Homo sapiens: one gene and its partner. The protein of the gene in region 1 interacts with the protein of each later gene in a pairwise test. Each region holds a gene or a part of one and is shown in the gene's direction. Other genes may lie near its edges.

What was found.
Region 2: the proteins of FMNL1 (region 1) and HMG20A interact in binary tests that used the Homo sapiens proteins (3 or more experiments, as listed by UniProt).

Annotation. Positions count from the first base shown.
Region 1 is NC_000017.11:45,223,875-45,229,408, forward strand, and holds part of FMNL1 (formin-like protein 1), read left to right. Parts: intron 1-5,534. UniProt on the Homo sapiens protein: May play a role in the control of cell motility and survival of macrophages. Plays a role in the regulation of cell morphology and cytoskeletal organization. Required in the cortical actin filament dynamics and cell shape.
Region 2 is NC_000015.10:77,464,869-77,469,491, forward strand, and holds part of HMG20A (high mobility group protein 20A), read left to right. Parts: intron 1-2,226; coding exon 2,227-2,439; intron 2,440-4,623. UniProt on the Homo sapiens protein: Plays a role in neuronal differentiation as chromatin-associated protein. Acts as inhibitor of HMG20B. Overcomes the repressive effects of the neuronal silencer REST and induces the activation of neuronal-specific genes.

The DNA of each region.
Region 1 (5,534 bases):
ACCAGGGGAAAATCCACAAGTCAAATGGTGAGGTTCTGATGTGTGTGTAGGACTTGTTTGCCCTGCTTGGATTTGTGGCTGTGATTGGCTGAGTCTGACACTAAATGCCACTGGGAGTCCCTGAGTACCAGGATGTGGAGGGGGGACACCCACAGGTGGGTCAGAGAGGGTGTGCTGGTGGAGAAAGTGGAGGTGCCTAGCAGAAATTTAGGGTAGCAGCACCCACCAGGGCTTACCCCCTACCAGGTGCCCAGGAACCCCAGTGTGTTTATACCTTCTTCCCGGGGTGGCTCAGCCTGTCTTATATCCTGTTGTGGGCAGGTTAAACCCAATCTAAGGACACTTGGCTAAGACCCTGGTTCCTCTCATTCCCCACCAGCAGGGGCATGAGGCTTGCCCCAGGGTGACAACCTTGACCTCTGCCTGAGGCTGCCCAGGGCTAAAGAGTTGGTTCAACCCTCAGGTCTGGCAGTGTGTATCGCAGAGTTGGTCGCTATGTGAACCCCCACCCGAACCACCATGGCCAGAGCTGAGTCCTGTCCTCGGTCAGTGTCTAAGAGGAGAAGAACCTTAGATTGCTGAGGGGAGGGGCCCACCGCCATCAGTGGTCCCCAGTCTCAATGGGAGAAGCACAGTCCTGCCCTCAGGGATGTAGTCCAGCGGCCCCAGGGAACCTCTTCCTTCCCCTTTTGTCCCTGGTGGGGCATAGGATCCTGATACCCCAAACTCTCCTTCCTCTCCTGGCTGTAGGACCTCTCTTGTGGGTGAGGGGTGTCCCCACTTACAGCCAGACAGGAGGTGCAGGGAGCCCTTCTCCCATGCAAGGGTGGGTGGTGGGGGGCTACCTTTCCAAGAAAGCTGTGAAAGAAAGGGGTGCCCCCTGCTTAAAATGGGGGTGGAGAGAAAGAGCAGGTTGAGCCAGGGTTTCCGGCTGCTGCCTTAGCAACAGCAGAGGAGCGATGGCTGCCCAGCCCCACGGGCCTGCTGTGATGGTGGGAACACCAGCCAGCGGGGCGCCAAGCTCTCGCCTCTCCTACGCCCATGCCCAAGGCTGGGTGTCTTCCAGCCCCTTCATGCCTTCCCCTGGGAGGCACGCAGGGTCAGGGACTGGGATGACAAGGCGACCTTTCCAGGCCTGCCAGAAGAGCCACACTTACACCTGGGCCTGGGACACCCCTGATCTGCCGGGCAGGGAGAATCCCATAACCTTGGGGCAGAGGGATCAAGGGAAGGTGTCAGGGGTGGTGTACGTGAGGCCAAAAGCCATGCTGGCATCCAGTAGCAGTGGAGAGGAATTTGCCTGATGGGTGCTCTTGGCTTGTGCCCAGAGGCCTGGGTGCCTGGCCAGGCTGTGTGGGGAGGTCAGGATGGCCCCATGTTGGGTGTGGGCCTGGAGTCCTGCTTGCAGCTGGGGCCCTTCCCTTCTGGGGCTGGCAGTAAAGGGCAGGAGGGACTGCAACTGAGGCACTGCCCCCTGGCCACTCCCACCTCCGGGACAGGGCAGATGAAGTGTGGGGACCTGGAGCCATGGGGTCGCTCAGGCCTTATGCCTGCCATTTGCAGGACAGAGGATCTCCGGGGGGATGTGGCCATGTGGTCTGATGTTGGGCTGGGCAGAGGGGAGGGGTGACATTCCCAGCAGGCAGGGCTGGCACATACTAACCCTGGAAAGCCACGGATGTGGTGGGCATGATTCACAGTGACATCTGGGGCTGACTGGCAGAGAGCTGGGTGAGACGGGTAGAAGCAGGTGCTCTCAGGGCTACCTCTGCCTTTTTCCTGGGAACATGGAGCCCTGGAAGGTGGCTTGGGGGGCCTTTGAGGGGACAGGGGTTACTTATGGGAAAGGCAGGGACGTTTCCTGAGCTTTGGGGTCATGATGTTTGGGGGTTGAGATTCATTTTTGTCACTACCTGCATGGCCCTGGACAAGTTACTTAACTTCTCTGAGCTGTAGTTTCCCTCACCTGTAAAAAGAGAATAATAATGGCATCTGCTGGCCTCCTAGGATTGTCGAGAGGGTGAAATAGAGGACTTCGCACAGTGCCTGACACAGAGCAGATGCTCAGTAACCCCCCTCCACTGTGAGAAAGGGGATAAAGCTGGAGCTGATCTGGTCCTCTCCATCTCAGGGCCCATTTAGCGGAGGGAGCCCAGACCCTGCCTGTCCCCTCCCTCCACCTCCACTACCAAGAGCACCCAAGGTTACTGTGCACTCCCCAGGAGCCCCAGATCCTTAGCTAGTGAGGGCCAGGCAACCTCCCCACCGTTATGCAGGTCACCAGCAGTGGGGCCCAGACCGAAAACTGCCTGGTGGCCGGAAACCGCTGGAGGGAGGGCCTACCTCTCCTGGAGGGTGGGGCAGCGATGGTGCTAACGGTAGCAGTGTGCACATGGGAGGGGGAGGGGAGGCCTCCACTTCCCCCTGAGAGAGGGTGTGCTGGTGGGGGGGTTCCCCAGTGAGTAAGAGCTCTGTGTGGGCAACAACAGGAAGCGTGGGGCGCTGGGTGGCAGGAAGTGGAGCTGGCTGTTCCTGGTTCCTCAGATGGGGGATCTGGGCCAGGCTGTCTGCAGAAGACCCCTGGGGGCCAGGACCCACATTTCCCATTCCCCGGCTGCTCCTTCTTTGGAGGAAGCCGGGTCTTCCTTGCTAGCTTGCCACCGAGGCCACCCTGGGCAAGCACCTTAACCTCCTTGAGTCTCAGTTTCCCATTTGTGAAATAGGGATTATAACAGTATCTATTTTGTAGGCTTGTTGAGGTTTAAATGAGTTTTGATGTAAAGTGCTTAGAACGGCACCTAGCACCCAGTGTTTGGGATTGAGAGATTAATTCTGAGTGAAAAAAAGTGTCTGGGGAGCGTTTGTTATTGTTACTGTTGTCGGTGTTGTTTTCCTCCTACCAGCCTGGATGATATAGGTAGTGGCTTCCACCCTGCTTGCCCTTGTCCCAGCTGTGGGGACCCTTGAACTCTGATGGGAGAAGCTGTTAGCTCTTTGGGTCCTCAGCACCTGATCCTGGGGCTGGGTCTCCTCATAGATCTCCTGTAAGCCTGGAATTGCTTATAAGAGCCCCAGAAAATCTATATGCCAAAGTTTAAAAAAGGAGGTAAAATTGATTGTGTTTGGATATGTGCCGAGAACACTACAACTAAGGTTGAGACCATATAGAGGTGGGCAGGTGGCAGGGAGATGGATGGGGGAGTGGGGGCTGGGGGACAGGCTCAGCTTCTGGGCCCATCGGGCTGAGGAAAGCCTGTGGGGCTGGCCTGAGACTGGGATTGATGTCCAAGTTCAGGGGTACCCTGGGGCTTGAAGGGCTAGGCCATAGGGAGAGATGGGCAGGTGGACTGAGACGTAGGCTCCGCTCAAACTGAAAGTGAAACCCTAGGGTGTGGCTGTGTCCAGATGTGGACGCAGCCCCTTCAGCCTCCTGGGACACTGTCTCAGAAGTAAGCACTGGTGTGGGGGAGGTGGGGGAAGGGCTCTTAGCAGTGTCTTTTGGGGGCTGGTCTTAGGTGAGCAGATGCTGGGGGTCCCCTCTCACACTCAGGGCAGGGAGGGAGGAGAATGGTCCCCACACATTCTAATAGAAAGATGTGGGGAATCAGTTCCTTTTCTCGGCCACACCCTAAAAGATGAATCCTGTCTCTTTCCTCATCTGGCCCAAAGCACTAAAGGCAGCAGGGAAAGTAGGCTGAGGCTAGTTAAGGTTTGGCCAAAGCCTTGGAGACAAGTCTGTGTTTCTGGATGTTTTCACAAACTTCTGCTCACCCTACCATCCCCTACCCTGGGGTCTTCCATGGACCCCTGCCCCTCCACCTCTTCTGCCTCTGTGAAGTGCTTCTTCATAGTGTTAGGCCACTGAAGAGCTTTGTTAAATCCAAACTCAGCTTCTCACTGAGTGTTCCAGGAGCTCCGTGAGTGTGAGGCTCCGGTGAGGGAGTGCGCCCATTTTATGGAGGAGGAAGCTGAGGTCCAAGGGGGCAAAGAAGCTGTAGGGCTAGTTGGGCCCAGAGCCTGGGTCTTTTGAAGCCAGCTCCAGGTCCTCCATGTGGCAGCTCATAGCTGTCCCTCCCTGCCCCCCTCAGGAGGCAGGTATCCCGCCCACCTGGACTGCCAGCCCCTCCCCTCCTACTTGAGCACTGTCAGCCAACTCTCCGTGTGTCCCCCAGCCCCCCATCCCATGGTGCTGCTGCCTCGCTGAAGGCCCTGGTCTGGGGGTCTGTTCCTGTTTTCAGGGTGGCCTCACTCCACCCCGAGTGAGTGGCATCTGATGGCCCCTCTCCTACTCCCTGGAGTGCCTGGCTCCTCGGTGGGCACAGCCACAGCTGAGGAGCAGCTGCTAATTAGTGTTCGGCGCTGTCAGAGCTATTTCTGATTTCTGAGCCTAAATTTAGCCTGTCTGGCAGGCTGGCATGTGGGCCTGGGGGCCTGAGAAGGCCCAGGTGGGGAAGGGGCATGGGCACCCTGCCCTCCACCACTGTTCAGACAGGTGCTCCAGGCCCCAGCAGAGGCCTCCCCTCGGCAGTAACAACCAGGGGGCTGTCCTGGGGGAGTGGACCCAGGTGGTGGCTCAGAGTCAGCTCCAGGCTCAAAGCCAGCCCAGCTCTCCTCTTACTGGCTTCGTAACCTTGGGCAGGTCACTAAACTAATCTGTGCCTGCACCTGTGAGGTGGGAATGTTAACGGTGCCAGTGACGGCAGTGAGGGTGGAAGGCAGTCGTCGGCGCGCAGGGCTCGGAGCAGTGCCTTGCACAGTAGGCATTCTGGTGGAGCTGGCCACCTGACTGTTGGAGATGTCATTATGACTAGTTACTGCCCCTAGAAATGCCGCTGGGGCCATTCCAGAACCATAAAGTTCCCTGGGTGGGTGAGGGCCTGGGAGGATTCATGTCGGGAAGCAGCTGTCCCCTCTGTGGCTCTGTGCTGGGCTCAGCCATCCCCTTACTCCCTGGCCACCGTCTTTTGTGCCGGCCACGGCTCCAGTTTCCCTGGCACTGCTGGCCCTGTCTCTCCTCTTTGTCCCTTTTCTCCACCTTGCTCCCACCTTAGCCCTGCCCCACCCTTTGTCTCTGTGGGGTGGGGGTGACTGAGAGACATCATCGAGAGAGACAGACAGATGGACAGGGACAGAGAGACAGAGAATGACCTCGCCTCCTTTGTACTCCTGGGCGGTTCCCCCACCCCCTGCCCCTGTGGTAGCAGGAGCTGTCCTGGCCCTTGGAGGGCTGGGGGAGGGCGGCTGATGAGACAGCGGTGGTTTCCTCAATCCAGGCTCACTTTCGCAATAGGGGAGAGGAATGACGTATTCCACCCCCTTCAGCCGCTGGGGGCGGGGGGCCTGGCGGAGGGGCAGTTTCACCTCTCCAGCAGGGCCTGGCCGGAAAGCTTAGGCAATGGAGGCTGAGCGCACCCAGCTTCCTGTTGTCTGGGCCTGACCCAAGGCAGTGATTTTGGGGGTAAGGTCTGGCTGGAGCCCCAGAACTAGGCCCAGCACCCTGGAGGGGAAGCTGGCTGGGGAGTCTCAGGTGGGTG
Region 2 (4,623 bases), on another chromosome or scaffold:
TACAAATAACTGATTACATTGTCAGTGTTTTAAGGCACTCTTTTTTTTTTTTAAGCCAATAAAGAGTGCCACCATTGATTTTTGTCTTTTTTCTTATTTTAAAAAAGCTGGCCGGGCATGGTAGCTCATGCCTGTAATCCTAGCACTTTGGGATGCCAAGGCAGGTGGATTACCTGAGGTCAGGAGTTCAAGACTAGCCTGGCCAACATGGTGAAACCCCGTCTCTACTAAAAAATACAAAAAATTAGCCAGGTGCAGTGGTGTGTGCCTGTAATTCCAGCTGCTCAGGAGGCTGAAGCAGGAGAATCTCTTGAACCCGGAGGCAGAGGTTGCAGTGAGCCAAGATAGCGCCACTGAACTCCAGCCTGGGCTACAGAGCGAGACTTCGTCTCAAAAAAAAAAAAAAAAAAAAAAAAAGAAAGAAAAAAACAACTAATTTTTTTTTATCTATCCTATTGGCATTTTTAAAGATTATAATGAATGCTTAAAGTTTCTTAAATACCTTGAAATTAAATTGTTCTGTTGTTTTTTGTTTTTTTTTTTTTGAGGTGGAGTCTTATTCTGTTGCTCAGGCTGGAGTGCGGTGGCACAATTTCAGCTCACTGCAACCTCTGCCTCCCAGGTTCAAGCTATTCTCCTGCCCCAGCTTCCCAAGTATCTGGGATTACAGGCACATGCCATCATGCCCAGGCAATTTTGTATTTTCAGTGGAGATGGAGTTTCTCCGTGTTGACCAGGCTGGTCTCGAAATTCTGACCTCAAGTGATCCGCCTGCCTTGGCCCTCCAAAGTGCTGGGATTACAGGTGTGAACCACCGTGCCAGCCCACAGTAGCTTTAATGTAACTAGGTTTAAAAAAAGAAAAACCTAATACCAAATACATAATTTGCCCAGTGGTGAATTATACCATTTTATATATATTTGGAGGAGTAGAGTACTACAATTAGTATTTAGATATTTTTGTCCTTGTTTATTTATATTTCTCTTGTCTGAAATAAGAATTCTTGTATCCATGAAATATTAACTGATACGGCTGTATTTGTAAAATTATGAAGTAAAAATATTATGTACCTTACATCTTATTTAAAGGGCCAAGAAGAAAGGCTGTGGTGAAACATCAGTGGTACCTCAGTCCTTTTCATTTCTTTAGTTTTTTTCAGAGGTGATTCAATCTTTTGATTTACCTGGTAACTCAACATATAAAGACCTCTGACTATAAAATGTACATCTAGGCCGGGTGCAGTGGATCACGCCTATAATCCCAGCACTTTGGGAGGCTGAGGCTGGTGGATCACCTGAGGTCAGGAGTTCGAGACCAGCCTGATCAACATGGCAAAACCCCATCTCTACTGAAAATACAAAAATTAGCTGGGTGTGGTGGCACATGCCTGTAATCCCAGCTACTTGGAAGACTAAGGCAGGAGAATCACTTGAACCTGGGAGGCGGAGGTTGCGGTGAGCCGAGATAGCGCCATTGCACTACAGCCTGGGCAAGAAGAGCAAAACTCTACCTCAAAAAAAAAATTAAAATAAAATGTACATCTAAAGGAACAAATTGTCAAGCCAAAGAGCTCGTCTTCATTTCAGATATATTATACTTACTAAAATTTTTCTGAGACTTAGATATTAATTTAGTATCTATCTGCTATGCTATGCTATCTGCTATCTGCTATGGGAAATAAGCTAGTCTTTGAAAGTTATCAATGAGCAACTCCCATTGTGAGTTATTTTTAATTTCTGCTACAACTTGTTTCTTCTTTTGCCTGGTGCACGTGACACCATCTTACTCTAATCTGACAATGTCTGCCTCCCTGCCACAATGCTGCATGTGCTGCTGTATTTCCCATTTGGATACTCTCCTGTCAGGAATCAGGACCTGACAGTTGTCTGTGGGACAGTCATATGCATATGAAGGTCAAAGCTGAGTGATCATGGCACCTCTTATTCTCATACATTGAGATTAGCACAAAAATAGCCCTTTAGTGTAACATTTTGTAGTGTGATACATAAAAGAGGTTGCAAGTGAAGCATCTGGAGTTCCTCAAAAATTGCATTGCTGTCATTTGTATATTACCTACAACAGATGTGGAGAGCTTTGAATATCCAGGGCCAAATTGCAACTCTTAATCCTGTTTTGTTTGTTGTTGTTTGTTTTTGTTGTTGTTGGGTTATTTTGGGAGATGGTTGTTGTTTGGTTTTTGGTTTTTTATTTTGTTTTGTTTTGTAGCAACGAAGTAAACGAGGAGGTTGGTCCAAAGGAAGAAAGAGGAAGAAACCTCTTCGAGACAGCAATGCACCCAAATCCCCCCTTACAGGATATGTTCGGTTCATGAATGAGCGTCGAGAACAACTTCGAGCAAAGAGACCAGAAGTCCCATTTCCAGAAATCACAAGGATGTTAGGCAATGAATGGAGTAAACTGCCTCCTGAGGAAAAACAGGTAATTGTTCCTATTCCTGACTCTTTGTTTGGTTTTGATTATATCTCAGAAATAACTTATATAAGAAAAGCAAAGAGGATGGACAGTTGATTCTGCAGTTTTGTCACAGTGCCTAGGAGACCAGAATAGCAGGGTCCATCATAGCAATTTTCTCTAGCCTAGTGATTTTTAAACTATTTGCTAGAGGGGTGTGAGCAGGGAAGGAGTCTAGGACTCCCCTCAACCAAAGCAACACCACTTTTTATACGCTGAGTTCACATAAGATTGTTTTAAGTGGTTCAGTATTAAGAAATCTGTCAATAAAATGTATTCCACTGAGTTAAATGAAAAGTCGTGAATTAAATGAGAAAAAGTCACTTGACACAATTCTGCAGTTCACATAAGATTTTTAAGAAAAAATGTTACTGCTTTAATACTTTTTTTAACTAGAGTTCTGGCAAATTAACCTACTATTGAAAATAAAGCAAGAACAACTTGAATTCTTTCTCCTCTAAGACAGAAACTAACCTGATGGGCAAACTGAAATGAATCCGTTCATTAGAGAGATTTGAAAGGAATTAAGGACAAGATAGCCATGAGCTGGTTGAAGTACCACTAAAGCTGAGCAGTGGTCATGGTTGTGGGAGCTGCTTTGGGTTAAAAGTTCCCAGCATTCCCAGCATCTGAAAGATATCTGTATTTCTTTTACGTCTTAAACTCTTTTATGACTTACACTTTTTAAAAAGGATTCCAGACACACTAAAACCAAATGGAGAAATACTCTCCTGGGAATTAATTGAATTCAGAAATTTTCAAAGAGATCAGATTCAGTTGCAACTTTTGAAGCTCTGTGTTTGTGGTAGCAAGCTAGTAGAAAGCAGTGAATATCATCCATTGTTTTGGCGCTACTGTATAAAAGGATAGTGGGCTGTACATACTATGCTATTCTTTTCTTTTTTTTCTTTATTTTAAAATTAATATGTGCTCATTATTCTCTTTTCAGAGAATACAGAAATGTATAAACAAAAATGTAAAAATAACAGTGCTTATTTCTTGGGATAACCACTATTACGTAGGACAAAGGTTTTGTGTTTGTTTTTGTTTTTTTAACTTTTTTTGGAAATAATTTCAAATACACAAAAAGTTACAAACATAAAAATAATACAAAGAACATCCCAACACTCTTTACCCAGATTCACCTATTGTTAACACATTTTATTCCATTTCTCCATTTGCATATGCACTTATATGCTCAGTCTTTCTTATACTTTTGCATGCTCAGTCTTTCTCTCTCTCTCTCTCTCTCTCTGTCACACACACACACACACACACACACACACTTGCATGTGTACACCCAGACACACACAAAATTTTGTTTTAATCATGTGAGGATAAATTATATACATTGTAGCCCTTTACCCCCAGGATATTTCAGTGTGTATGTCAAAGAATATTTTCTTATATAACCATAGTGTAGTCATCAATTTCATAATTTTTCATTAACAGTGCTTTAATCTGTCATCTATATGTTGACTGAATGTCATTTCTTTATAACATTTTTCCCTTCCAAAACAGGTTCCAGTCTAGGGTCAGGTTTTGTGTTTAGTAGTCAAGTTTCTTTAGCTTAAACTGGGATATTTCCATAATCTTTCTTTTTCTTTTATAACATTGATATTTTTTTAAAATACAGTTCCCTTCTGCTTCCCCCGCTGCTTTTACCTTTAACAGAACATTGCTCATTGTGTATTTTTCAGATGTTTCCTTGTGATTAGATTGAGGTTGCGCATTCTTGGTGGGATTACTTGCATAGGTGGTGGTGTGTTCTCAATATGTCACATATGCAGGCACACAATGTCCTTTTGTTTCTCACTAGTAATGTTAATTTTGCTTACCTGGTACATTATTTAAATTCTCCTTTGTCATTAATAAGTAATCTATGGGGAGACGATTTAAGAACATACAAACAGCCTGTTTTACATCAACATTTTCCCCTAGATTTAGCATCCATTGATTATTTTTGCCTGATTTAATCTTTATCATTATGGTTACAACGTGATGATTTTTCCAACTCCAGCACTCCCTTTACATTTACCAGGTAGCCTTCAGCATTCTAATCTAAGCAAGATCTTGGCTTACTGCAACCTTGACCTCCTGGTCTCAAGCACCCCTCCCACCTTAGCCTCCTAAGTAGCACACACCACCAAA